3 linked regions of the Homo sapiens genome follow. The protein of the gene in region 1 interacts with the protein of each later gene in a pairwise test. Each region holds a gene or a part of one and is shown in the gene's direction. Other genes may lie near its edges. The genes, in order: CFAP418, TXNRD2 and FRG1.

What was found.
Region 2: the proteins of CFAP418 (region 1) and TXNRD2 interact in a two-hybrid assay, tested with the Homo sapiens proteins (one study listed by IntAct).
Region 3: the proteins of CFAP418 (region 1) and FRG1 interact in a two-hybrid assay, tested with the Homo sapiens proteins (one study listed by IntAct).

The regions. Positions count from the first base shown.
Region 1 is NC_000008.11:95,252,065-95,255,717, reverse strand, and holds part of CFAP418 (cilia- and flagella-associated protein 418), read left to right. Parts: intron 1-3,434; coding exon 3,435-3,530; intron 3,531-3,653. UniProt on the Homo sapiens protein: May be involved in photoreceptor outer segment disk morphogenesis.
Region 2 is NC_000022.11:19,893,341-19,896,904, reverse strand, and holds the end of TXNRD2 (thioredoxin reductase 2, mitochondrial isoform 5 precursor), read left to right. Parts: intron 1-1,323; coding exon 1,324-1,498; intron 1,499-1,704; coding exon 1,705-1,772; 3' UTR 1,773-2,997; downstream 2,998-3,564. UniProt on the Homo sapiens protein: Involved in the control of reactive oxygen species levels and the regulation of mitochondrial redox homeostasis. Maintains thioredoxin in a reduced state. May play a role in redox-regulated cell signaling.
Region 3 is NC_000004.12:189,947,368-189,951,020, forward strand, and holds part of FRG1 (protein FRG1), read left to right. Parts: intron 1-3,653. UniProt on the Homo sapiens protein: Binds to mRNA in a sequence-independent manner. May play a role in regulation of pre-mRNA splicing or in the assembly of rRNA into ribosomal subunits. May be involved in mRNA transport.

The DNA.
Region 1 (3,653 bases):
TGTGTTAAATTCATCAAACACATATTAACCACCTGATAGGTCCTAAGGATTAAATGAACAAATTTTGATGAACAAATAAATGGACACTTCCTGTCTTCAATGAGCTTTCAGTCTAGATGAGGAGATGGGCTTTAAATAGATTATTCCACAAATAAGTATTTATTTTCCATTTGATATGTGACATAAAGGGAACATATGGGATACTATAAGCATAGATAATGGACACTCTAACTAATATGAAGGGTCAGGGAATACTTCTCTGAGCAGATAATCAAACCACAATATGAAAAATGAGTAGGAGTTAGACAAAGAGAGGTGACCATTGGAGCCAGAGCACACGCATGTTTAGAAGCTCCCTGAGAAGGGGAGGAGCTGGGGGTGTTCCTCTGGTGGAAGGAACAGAGAGTATCTGGCCATGCTGGAGCATAATGAGTAGGGAAAGAATGGCCACTGACTGGGCTGGAGAGAGAGTGGAGGGACATTTGGCTTAGGGTCCTGTAATCCTTTTGAGGATTTTGGAAAAAGTTTGTCCTGTGTTCAATGGGCCAGATTTGTGTTTCTTAAAAAAGTCATGTTGGCTGCTGTGCAGAAAATGGCTTGGGAGTTGGAGGGGCAAGACAGGAAAGGACACAGGAAGACTAGTCAATGGGCAGTAGTTAGAGTGGTCCAGGAAAGAGAAGATGGGAGCTGTGACCTGCGTGGTAGCAATGGCTATAGGGAAAAGGTCAAATTTGAAATATTTAGAATATAGAATTGACAGAATTCAGTGATTGACTAAGGAGGGTAAGAAAGAAAGTTGTTAAGAATGACTCCCAAATAAGGTGCCTTGCTCAAGGTCATATCAGTTATTGCAAAGCAAGGATCCAGATTGGTTACTTGATTCCTAATCCATTATGCTTTCTATTATACCACTTAGCAGAAAGCCATGTAATATGGGAAGAATCTTAGCTGATGTTGCTGTTGGAACTGCTGTTATCTTCAAACTATCCAGACATCAAGTTTCTTTAGTCCCATTGTGCAGATCTGATAGGATTTAACAGAGAACCACAGTGTCTGGGCAGAAGATTGTATTGGGTTGGATTTGGGGCATTCCTGTCGTAAACATCTTTAAAATAGTGAATTCTACTTTTTAGCTGGACAAAAGAACAAAGCTCTTGGTGACATCTTATGTGTGATTCCCTCTACATTTTAGAGGGAAAGACCTGACAGTTTGTCTTTCACTGGAGTCATGACTTTATATTAGATATGCTTTTATGTACATAGTTATGAAAGAGAAATATATTTCAGCCCTGAAAAGAGTACTGATTTACATGGCCAGGGCATAAAGGAAATTGAATCTATCCTGCCTATTTGCGTTGTTTGATTTCTAGATACAGCTCTGGCTTGAGGTAATGCTGAATGACTTTAGATTTTAGAAAAAGATTTGTCTTTCACTTGTTGGTGGAAAAGGGGAGAGAATAGTAGTAGGAAGCATGGTGGCAGTAATAAGTACTACAGATAAAACGAAGGCATTTTCAAGCCAATCGAATTTTACTCTCAATTATTTTTTAAACAACTTGCAAGACTGGATTATTCCATAGACTGGTACTAATTATGATCTAATAGAGTAAATCGTAGCAGTGGAATGATTTCTTAGCTGCAAGTTAGTTTTATGTTTCTCAAAGGACAGTGTTTGTAGGAAAATGTGGTGGTGTGAATAGATTTGAATAAACTACTAAATTTTAAATTAAATTAAAAAGCTGTATTTAGCATTATGGTTGAGATTTTACACATACAAAATGTCAGGAAATTCTAAATTATAGTTCCCACAACAGCAATAATTCAGCCAAATTGCACATATGTATTAAGGCATTAAAGTTAACACTCTGTGCAATCATGTAATAAACTATATATGCATAAGAAAGCAGGTCATAGTAGCTTTGGGAACTATCAATTTGCATTTCCTGACTTGTACATTCGAAGTCTGAGTTCAAATGTGTACAAATGTAGTTGTTGAATTTCCAAATGTAGAAATGCAACTTCATAAATTGCTAACAGTTTGAAAGAAAATATGGACTTGCCTATGAAACTTGTATAGGTTTTAAATGTTTCATTATTATTATGGTTAATAGTATTTTTAGAAATACAAAGCATTTATTCTCAAAGAAATTTTCAGGCCAAAAGTATTTGCATTTTGAAATTAGCGTATCTGAACTTTGAAGGGAAATAAATGAAAAAAATCTAATGATGAGTTTATTTTTTCATTACAGAAGTATTATGTGCTTAATGAAAGAATAAAAACAAAATTGAAACATGTATAAAGAAAAAGATAATAATCTCCCTTCCTTCCCTTCAACCACTCCTGATGCAACCAGGGTTACTGTGTAGTATATAACTTTCTACATTTTGCTCCATGTTCTTTTTTTTTTGAGACAGAGTCTCGCTTTGTCGCCCAGGCTGGAGTGCAGTGGCGCGATCTCCCCTCACTGCAATCTCCGCCTCCCGGGTTCACGCCATTCTCCTGCCTCAGCCTCCTGAGTAGCTGGGACTACAGGCGCCCGCCACCATGCCCAGCTAATTTTTTTGTATTTTTAGTAGAGATGGGGTTTCACTGTGTTAGCCAGGATGGTCTCGATCTCCTGACCTCGTGATCCGCCCGCCTCAGCCTCCCAAAGGGCTGGGATTACAGGCGTGAGCCACCGCGCCCGGCCATTTTGCTCCATGTTCTTATAAACTTCTAGCCACCTATATAGGAATTTTTTGTGGGGGTCGTTTTTACAAAAATAGGATCATGCTATATATGTTAGTGTGCACCTTGCTTCAGATATCCCTCCAGGTTAGTATATAGTCTAGTTATCATGAGCATTGTTTGTTTCTTCTCTCACTGCAATCAAAGCTCTATGAAGACAGAATCTCATTAGCACATACCAGACTCTCAATAAATATTTTTTGAGTGAATGAATGCATTATGCCAAGTTGTGAGGAAGCAAACAAATACAATCTTTTCCCAGCGCTTAAGCAGCTTATCTGAAAAACAGATTCATTTCAATGTCATGTGACATATTCTTCGGTAGAGATATTCCTGAAAATTTCAGTAGGAAGGGGAGCATTTAAAGAAGTTAGCTTATATGACGATCTCCCTCAGACGTAATTTGAAAACCATGGAATTAAAAGATCTACAAATCTATTTTCTTTCATATCTATATAATATATGTGTAAGTTCAGTGTACAAGATCATAGTAAAATAGGTAGGTTTGTGCAAAAATTTAACCTTAAGGTTTAGACCGTAAATAATGCTTTAGTATAAAGATTTATAATCAGATTAATCTGTACTTTTCTGTTGTTTATTCAGTAATCTGTAATATGTGGTGTATCCTATAAATAAATCACCATGTTTTCATTGGTATTTAAAGATACCAATAATCTTTAATATACAATTTTTTTTCTCTGAACAGAGCATGTGACCATCTGCGTTGTATAGCCTGTGATTTCTTGGTAGTCAGCTATGATGACTATATGTGGGACAAATCGTGTGATTATCTGTTTTTCAGGTATGTTGCTAAAGAACTTCACTCTGAAAAAAGTACCAAGTAGTTTATATTTCCTATTTTGATATATTCTCTCTGGGTGGATTCAGCCAGATCTTGTGGGCTTCACCTCTTCAGTATAGTCAT
Region 2 (3,564 bases), on another chromosome or scaffold:
TGGCCATGCCCTCCAGGCCTCTGGAGGGGTGCAGGAGTGATGAACAGCCTGTGCGGCAGCCCCTCTGCAGCACAGCCAGCCCTGCCCGGCGGGCCAGACTCCCACACACGCCATCTAGAGCCAGCTGGCACACCCGCACAGGTGTCAGAGGATGTTAGCAGTGACTGTTTTTCTCCTCTTGAAACCAGAAGCTGTGGCCAGCTTCACTGCTGGTCCGTGCAAGTCCCCATTGTCCTGGGAACAGGGCCCCCATCTGTAGCTGGACTTGGGGCGCACAGGCCTCCTGGGCCGGGAGGGAGAAGCAGGACTCTCTCTGTCCCTGATCTGGACCTGAGCCTGCTGTGCCTACATTTCTAGGCGGGAGCAGAGTCTCCTACCTACCCTCCTGGCTCCTGGATGGCAGAGGGGCATGTTGGCCACATGTGGAGGGGTGGGCCAGGAGCAGGGGCCATCTTGTTGGACCAGGGCACAGCTCCTGGGGGAAGGCACGCTTCTCTGCCATTGGTTTTAGTGAAGACTAAGTTTTTTGTTTTTGTTTTTTAAAGAAATGTGTAGATGTACCAGGATTTGGTTGTTTTTCTTTTTTTTCTTTCTTTTTTTTTGGTTTGAGACAGAGTCTCACTCTGTCACCCAGGCTGGAGTGCAGTGGCACAATCTCGGCTCACTGCAAGCTCCACCTCCCGGGTTCACGCCATTCTCCTGCCTCAGCCTCCCAGTTAGCTGGAACTACAGGTACCTGCCACCACGCCTGGCTAATTTTTTGTGTTTTTTAGTAGAGACAGTGTTTCACCGTGTTAGCCAGGATGATCTCTATCTCCTGACCTCGTGATCCGCCCGCCTCAGCTTCTCAAAGTGCTGGGATCACAGGTGTGAGCCATCGCACCCGGCCTTGCTTATTTTTTCTTTTAGAGATAGAGTCTCACTCTGTCGCCCAGGCTGGAGTGCAGTGGTGTGATCACAGTTCATTGCAGCCTCAAACTCCTGGGCTTGAGGGATTCTCCCACTTCAGCCTCCCAAAAGGTTGGGATTACAGGTGTGACCGTATCTGGCTGATGAAGACTTAGTTAATTAGCATCTAGAGAGGAGCCCACAGGCTGAGTGAATCCTGACCATAGGGCCCAGGGTTGAGGACTTGGAGCCAGGACAGGGGCTAGACACTCCACAGAGAGCAAGAGGACGTAGAGCAGGGGGCAGGGTGTCTCACCCCGTCTTCCGCACAGACCCCTCTCCGCCCTTCATTGAGGCCTTCGAGAGCAGGGCAGGGCCAGAGCCTCTCTCCCACGGCCACCTGGTCTTCATGGCCTGTCTTCTTGTGCTTTGCAGCAAATGTCCTCCATGGTCATAGAGCACATGGCATCTCATGGCACCCGGTTCCTGAGGGGCTGTGCCCCCTCGCGGGTCAGGAGGCTCCCTGATGGCCAGCTGCAGGTCACCTGGGAGGACAGCACCACCGGCAAGGAGGACACGGGCACCTTTGACACCGTCCTGTGGGCCATAGGTAAGGGCACGTCGAGCCACACGCTCTGTCTCTGGTCTCCCCGAGGTGCATGGAGAATCTTTGCCCCACTTCCTGTCACCTCCCAGGGCTCCCCCATCCTGCTGGCTGCCAGGCGGGTTGGCCGCTCCCCAGTGCACCTCGAGAGCAACCGTGAAGGCCTGTGGGGCGGCACTCACACTAGGCTGTGCCCATCTTGCCATCCCCAGCACCTTGCATCTCTGCGTGTCTCCCCACCACCGTGGGACATGCTGGAAAAAACCAGAGAAGAGACTGAGACGGCATCAGCCAGGTGTCCTCATCGAGGATCAACTAGGCAATCATCCTCGCCTTCCCTGGCCCTTGAGCAATTGCTTATTAAGGTTTCAGCACATAAATCCTACTTGTCACCTTCCAGGTTTAAGTCTTGGTATGTTTCTTTTCTTTTTTTTTTTTTTTTTGAGATGGAGTCTCGCTCTGTCGCCCAGGCTGGAGTGCAGTGGCAACCTCCGCCTCCCGGGTTCAAGCGATTCTCCTGCCTCAGCCTCCTGGGTAGCTGGGGCTACAGGCGCCCACCACTACACCTGACTAATTTTTGTATTTTTAGTAGAGACGGGGTTTCACCATGTAGGCCAGGATGGTCTCAATCTCCTGACCTTGTGATCCACCTGCCTTGGCCTCCCAAAGTACTGAGATTACAGGTGTGAGCCACCGCACCTGGCCAGTATGTATTTTTTCTTTAGCATATTAAATGTTTTGCTGCTTCAGGCTTTCCAGCTAGGTTTTTTTCTTTTTTTGCGTGTGAAACAGGGTCTCTCTCTGTTGCCTAGGAGGAGTGTGGTGGTGTGATCATAGCTCACTGCAGCCTCCACCTCCCAGGCTCAATCAATCTTCCCATCTCAGCCTTCTAAGTGCTGGGATTACAGGTTTGAGCTACTGTGCCCAGCCAAGCTAGTTTGTTGTTTTTAACATAAAAATGATATGGATTTGAAAGTTTTAAAAATTATGGTGACATACACATAACATCAAATTCATCATCTTAAGCATTTTAAAGTATATAGTTCAGTGGTGTTAAGTACGTTCATATTGTACAAGCAGCATGACCATCCATCTCTAGAACTTTTCCATTATCTCCAAACTGAGCTCTGTCCCCATTAAACACTCACTCCCTGCTGCCCGGGCACTCACCCTTCACTGTGTGTCTCTATGGATCTGACTCCTCGAGGGACTTCATGTAAGTAGAATCATGCAGTGTTTGTCCTTTTGTGACTGGCTCATTTCTCTTAGCACAATGTTTTCAGGGTGCATCCATGTTGCAGCATTTGTTAGAGTTAGCATTTGTGTAGCATGTGCCAGCATTTCCTTCCTGTTGAAGGCTGAGTTGTATGTGTGTCCATTATCTGTCAGTGGACACTTAGGTTGCTTCCGTCTTTTGGCTGTTGTGGATCATGCTGCTGTGAACATGGGTGTGCACAAGCCGCCTGTTTTCAGCACATAAAAATGACACAGAGTTTTTAAAGTTCTGTCCAGCCTTCTCGTGGCTTTCAGTGTTTCCCAGTGGGTCCCTTTGGGCCTGGCAGGTCATCACATGCCAGGAGTGGCATTTTGCAGGCCTTTCCAGAAGTCACATTTCGAAGGCTTCCAAAGACATCACCCTTCCAGTGCTGGGCAGAGGCCTGGGCGTTTCCCGGCCAGGCGTGGGCTGGCTACAACTTGCTGGGCACAGTCTGGTCTCACCTTCTTGCTCTCTGTCAGGTGTAGGTCCGGTTTTGCATGGGGCAGTGGCCGAGCAGGTGTGGGGAGTGTGGACACAGCCAGGGGATACCTGTGCCCAGGCCTGGGCCGGGGCTGTCTGACGGGACTGGCAAGGGGCAGCTGGAGCCAACAGGGATCGCCCAGACACTGCTCTGTCCCAGGCCTGCTGCAGAGGAGGCCATTGCAGATGGGCCGCCGCAAGGAGGGCTGCGGGTCCTCGTCAGGGTGGGTGGCGGCACACACAGCATGCCTGCTCAGATGTCCTACCCACCTCGGTGCCTGGCCGTCTAGTTTAGGCTCCTAGTTTTCCCAATCACCCTGTCAACTTGCATGTT
Region 3 (3,653 bases), on another chromosome or scaffold:
GTCTTTCATTTTCATAACATTTTAACCTTATTTCTGTTAAATGTCTTGATGCCTAGTCAAATTATTTGACCACCCTTTTGCTCCTGTCAAGCCTGGGCCTTTGTTAGTTTGTGCTTATTTATTAGGGTTTTGCTCGTAGACTTAGACAGTGACTCTTAGTCTAGGAAAGGTTCATCCTCATGGGCCTCAGCCACATGTTCTAGGTATACTTAGTGAGTTCTCTCCACTCTGCTGTGTCCCAAATTTGTGTGATCTCTGGCATCTCCAGTCAGCCCTCAGAAGTGCCAGCCACTCTGCAGAGGCCTTGTGGAGCCTGCCTGCTGCATGCACTCCCCCCAGCCCTTGGCCACAGACCTGCAGAGAACTTTTGCGTACTCTTTTGAGGCCTCACCTGTATGTAGTTCCCTCTTCTCCAGTACCTTATTCTATAAACTCCCAACATGTTAGCACTGTAAGACTCTCAGCTTAGTGACAGTGACATTGCCTCATTTCTGGAGGTCTCTACCTCTCTCCGTGTGGTCAAGAAACTGCCATTGGGCAGAAAACACAAGTGTGTATGAGATTTGCCTCCAGTGTTTTCCTGTTCTCAAATATCACAGTCCTGTTCTGCCTGTGTTCCAATCTCTGAAAACAGTTTTCTCAAATATTCTATCCAGTTTCAGTTTTCTCGTTGGTCATGGTGGGAGGGCAAGTCCATCTTGGCTGGAAGAGGAAGTCCTTCTGCGTCTTTTTCTCTTTGTCCTTCCACATGGTTTTGCATTGTGGATTTTCTAAACTTGCCGTATAAGTAAGCATGTGCCTATTTGTGAAGGGAAAGAAAAAAAACCTTTTAATTTTTTAAAGCTGTTCTGTTGGTTCCTCACAAGGATCTGAAGGGATTGGTAAATAGGATGAAAGAAATTCTGTCTTTCACATGGAGAAAACCAAGTGTGACATTAATAAAAACGAGCATGTCTGTAGGCAAAGAGTTTCACTGAGCTCTGCTAGATTCAGAAGCAGTTGGACTTACAACATCGTACTTTGCAAAACACATATATTTTATTTACCCAGGAACTAAAGCTAAGTCAGCTGTGGATTAATAGAAGGTCTGTGAAGGGTACTTAGACTACAGTAAGATTGGGGAAGAAAATTCCATTTCCAAATCTAAGATATATCATTCCTTTGTGCCAAGCACATAATGATAGTAGAGATTTAAGGGGGCCCTTAGCACGGAAGCACTGGGTTAGTCAGAAGGTGAGGTGAGCTGTCACACAGCCTTGATGCTAGAATGAGGGTGCCCTGGTACTATCTTATCAGCCATGACACTGGTGCATTGGGCCATTTTTTTGTTTTGTTTTTTTTGAGACAGGCTCTTGCTTTGTTGCTCAGGCTGGAGTGCAGTGACATGATCGTGGCTCAGTGCACCCTCGACCTCGTAGGCTCAAGCAATCCTCTCACCTCCGACTCCCGAGTAGCTGGGACCACAGGCTCGTACCACCACACCCAGCTAATTTCTTAATTTTTTTGTAGAGATGGGGGTCTCCTTTTGTTGCCTAGGCTGATTTTGAACTCCTGGGCTAAAGTGATTCTCCTGCTTCCACCTCTCAAAGTGCTGGATTACAGGCATGCCAGACATATGTAAACATTCTAAACTATGTGACAATATGTGTAAAGCTTTCTCATGCATTGTGAGACAACACAGCAGGAATATTTCACCATCTGCCTAAGGTTTAAAAGGAAATAACTTTAAGCATGTGTCTAAATAGCAAGTAATGTTTTAGAGCGGATTCTCTTAAATTCAGCTTGGGCATCTGCACCATATACACAGCTTGAGCTGTCACCTGACGTAGAGACAGGCAACTTCAGTGCCCGTGTTCATAGGATCCACTGCTTTCTCACAGCTAAAACCCCAGAGTGGCACCATTAAGTATTATGTTATGTTACTTTAGTCGATAAACATATAAGCATACCTCCAAAGGTTGAATGTAGGCCACTTGCAGAAAGTAGGCAGAATGCTCACATTTAATTCTTGATGATACTGTGTTTATATTTCTTATTCTTTGAAATTGCATTGAGAAAAAATACTGGCATCTGCTCAAAGTAATTTCTTTTTCAGTTGACAATATTAAAGTAACGTTATTGTATCATTTCCCTACTTGGACAGAGTGTGAAAATTTTAAGGAGCTTGTCTGCCAGAAATTTCTTCTTCATTTGCAAAACATTAATGAGTTATTATATTTAAATGATTTTATTTAATATTAAGTGTACTTGGTCAATGTGGCATAGAACATACAAAATAAATCTAATTTAAAATCATTAACTATTATATTTATAAGAAAGACTTGCTAATCATAACACTGTTGATAATGATTCTGAATAAAGCATTATTTCTTTTCCTGAAAACAATTGTAGCTATAATTCAATCATCTAAATTGCTTATTAGTTTTATTTCTTTTTAATTGTCTTTAGCTGAAATTTTAATTTTGATTAATTTTCTTTTTCTCCATTGGTTTTGTGTGTGTGTGGAGGTAAAATATACAGAATATAGAATTTGCCAGTTTTTCTATTTTTACGTGTATGCTTCAGTGGCATTTAAATACATGCACCATTTTACCTTCCCACCAGCATTGCACAGGGTTTCCGTTTCTCCACATCCTGCCCAACATTTGTTTTTCTGGCTTTCTTGGTTTCTGTTTTTTGTTTGTTTGTTTGTTTTGATAATAGCTATTCTAATGGGTGTGAAGTGGTATTGCATTATGGTTTTGATTTATATTTCCCTAGTGACTAGTGATGTTGAGCGTCTTTTCAAGTGCTTATTGGCCATTTGTATATCATCTTTGGAGCAATGTCCGTGTATATCCTTTGCCCAGTTTTGAATTGTGGTATTTGTCTTTTTGGAGTTCTCTATATAGTCTGGATATTAATTCCTTATAATGTATGTAGTTTACAAATATTTTCTCCATTCCCTGGGTTGCCTTTTACTCTGTTGATGGCGGTTCTTGATGCACAAAAGTTTTTAATTCTGATGAAGTCCAGTTTGTCCACGTTTTCTTTTGTTGCCTGTGCCTTTGATGTTCTACATAAGAAATCATTGCCAAATTCATGTCGTGAAGCTTTTCCCATTTTCTTCTAAAAGTTTTCTAACTTTAGCTCTTACATTTAGGTCTTTGGTCTGTTTTAAGTTACTTTTTGTATTTGGCATTAGATAAGGGTCCAACTTCATTTTAGCTAAAATTTTATGTATTTTAAAATTTATTATGGAAAGCATGAAATGTTTAGTTGAATAGAAAATTTTGTGCAGTGGAATTAACTGAATCTTTAAAACCTTTTTATTATGGAAATATCCAAACTATTCCATACATAGAAGAATATAATGAGTCCCCCATGTGCCCAGGCCCCAGCATTAATTATCAATATTTTGCCAATCTCATTTCATTTACACACATGCCCCCACACACATTTTTTCTTAGAAAATTTTAAGTAAAATCACAGATGTTATGTCATTTTACCCATGAGTACATAAACGTACATTTCTTAACGTGGTATGTCTTTCTGTCATCACCTGTTTTGTTCTTTATTTTTATATATTATACTATGTCATTATCAGACCTTGTAAAATTAACAAGAATTCCTTAATATGTCATATCCAGTTAATGATTGACTCATTTCTACTC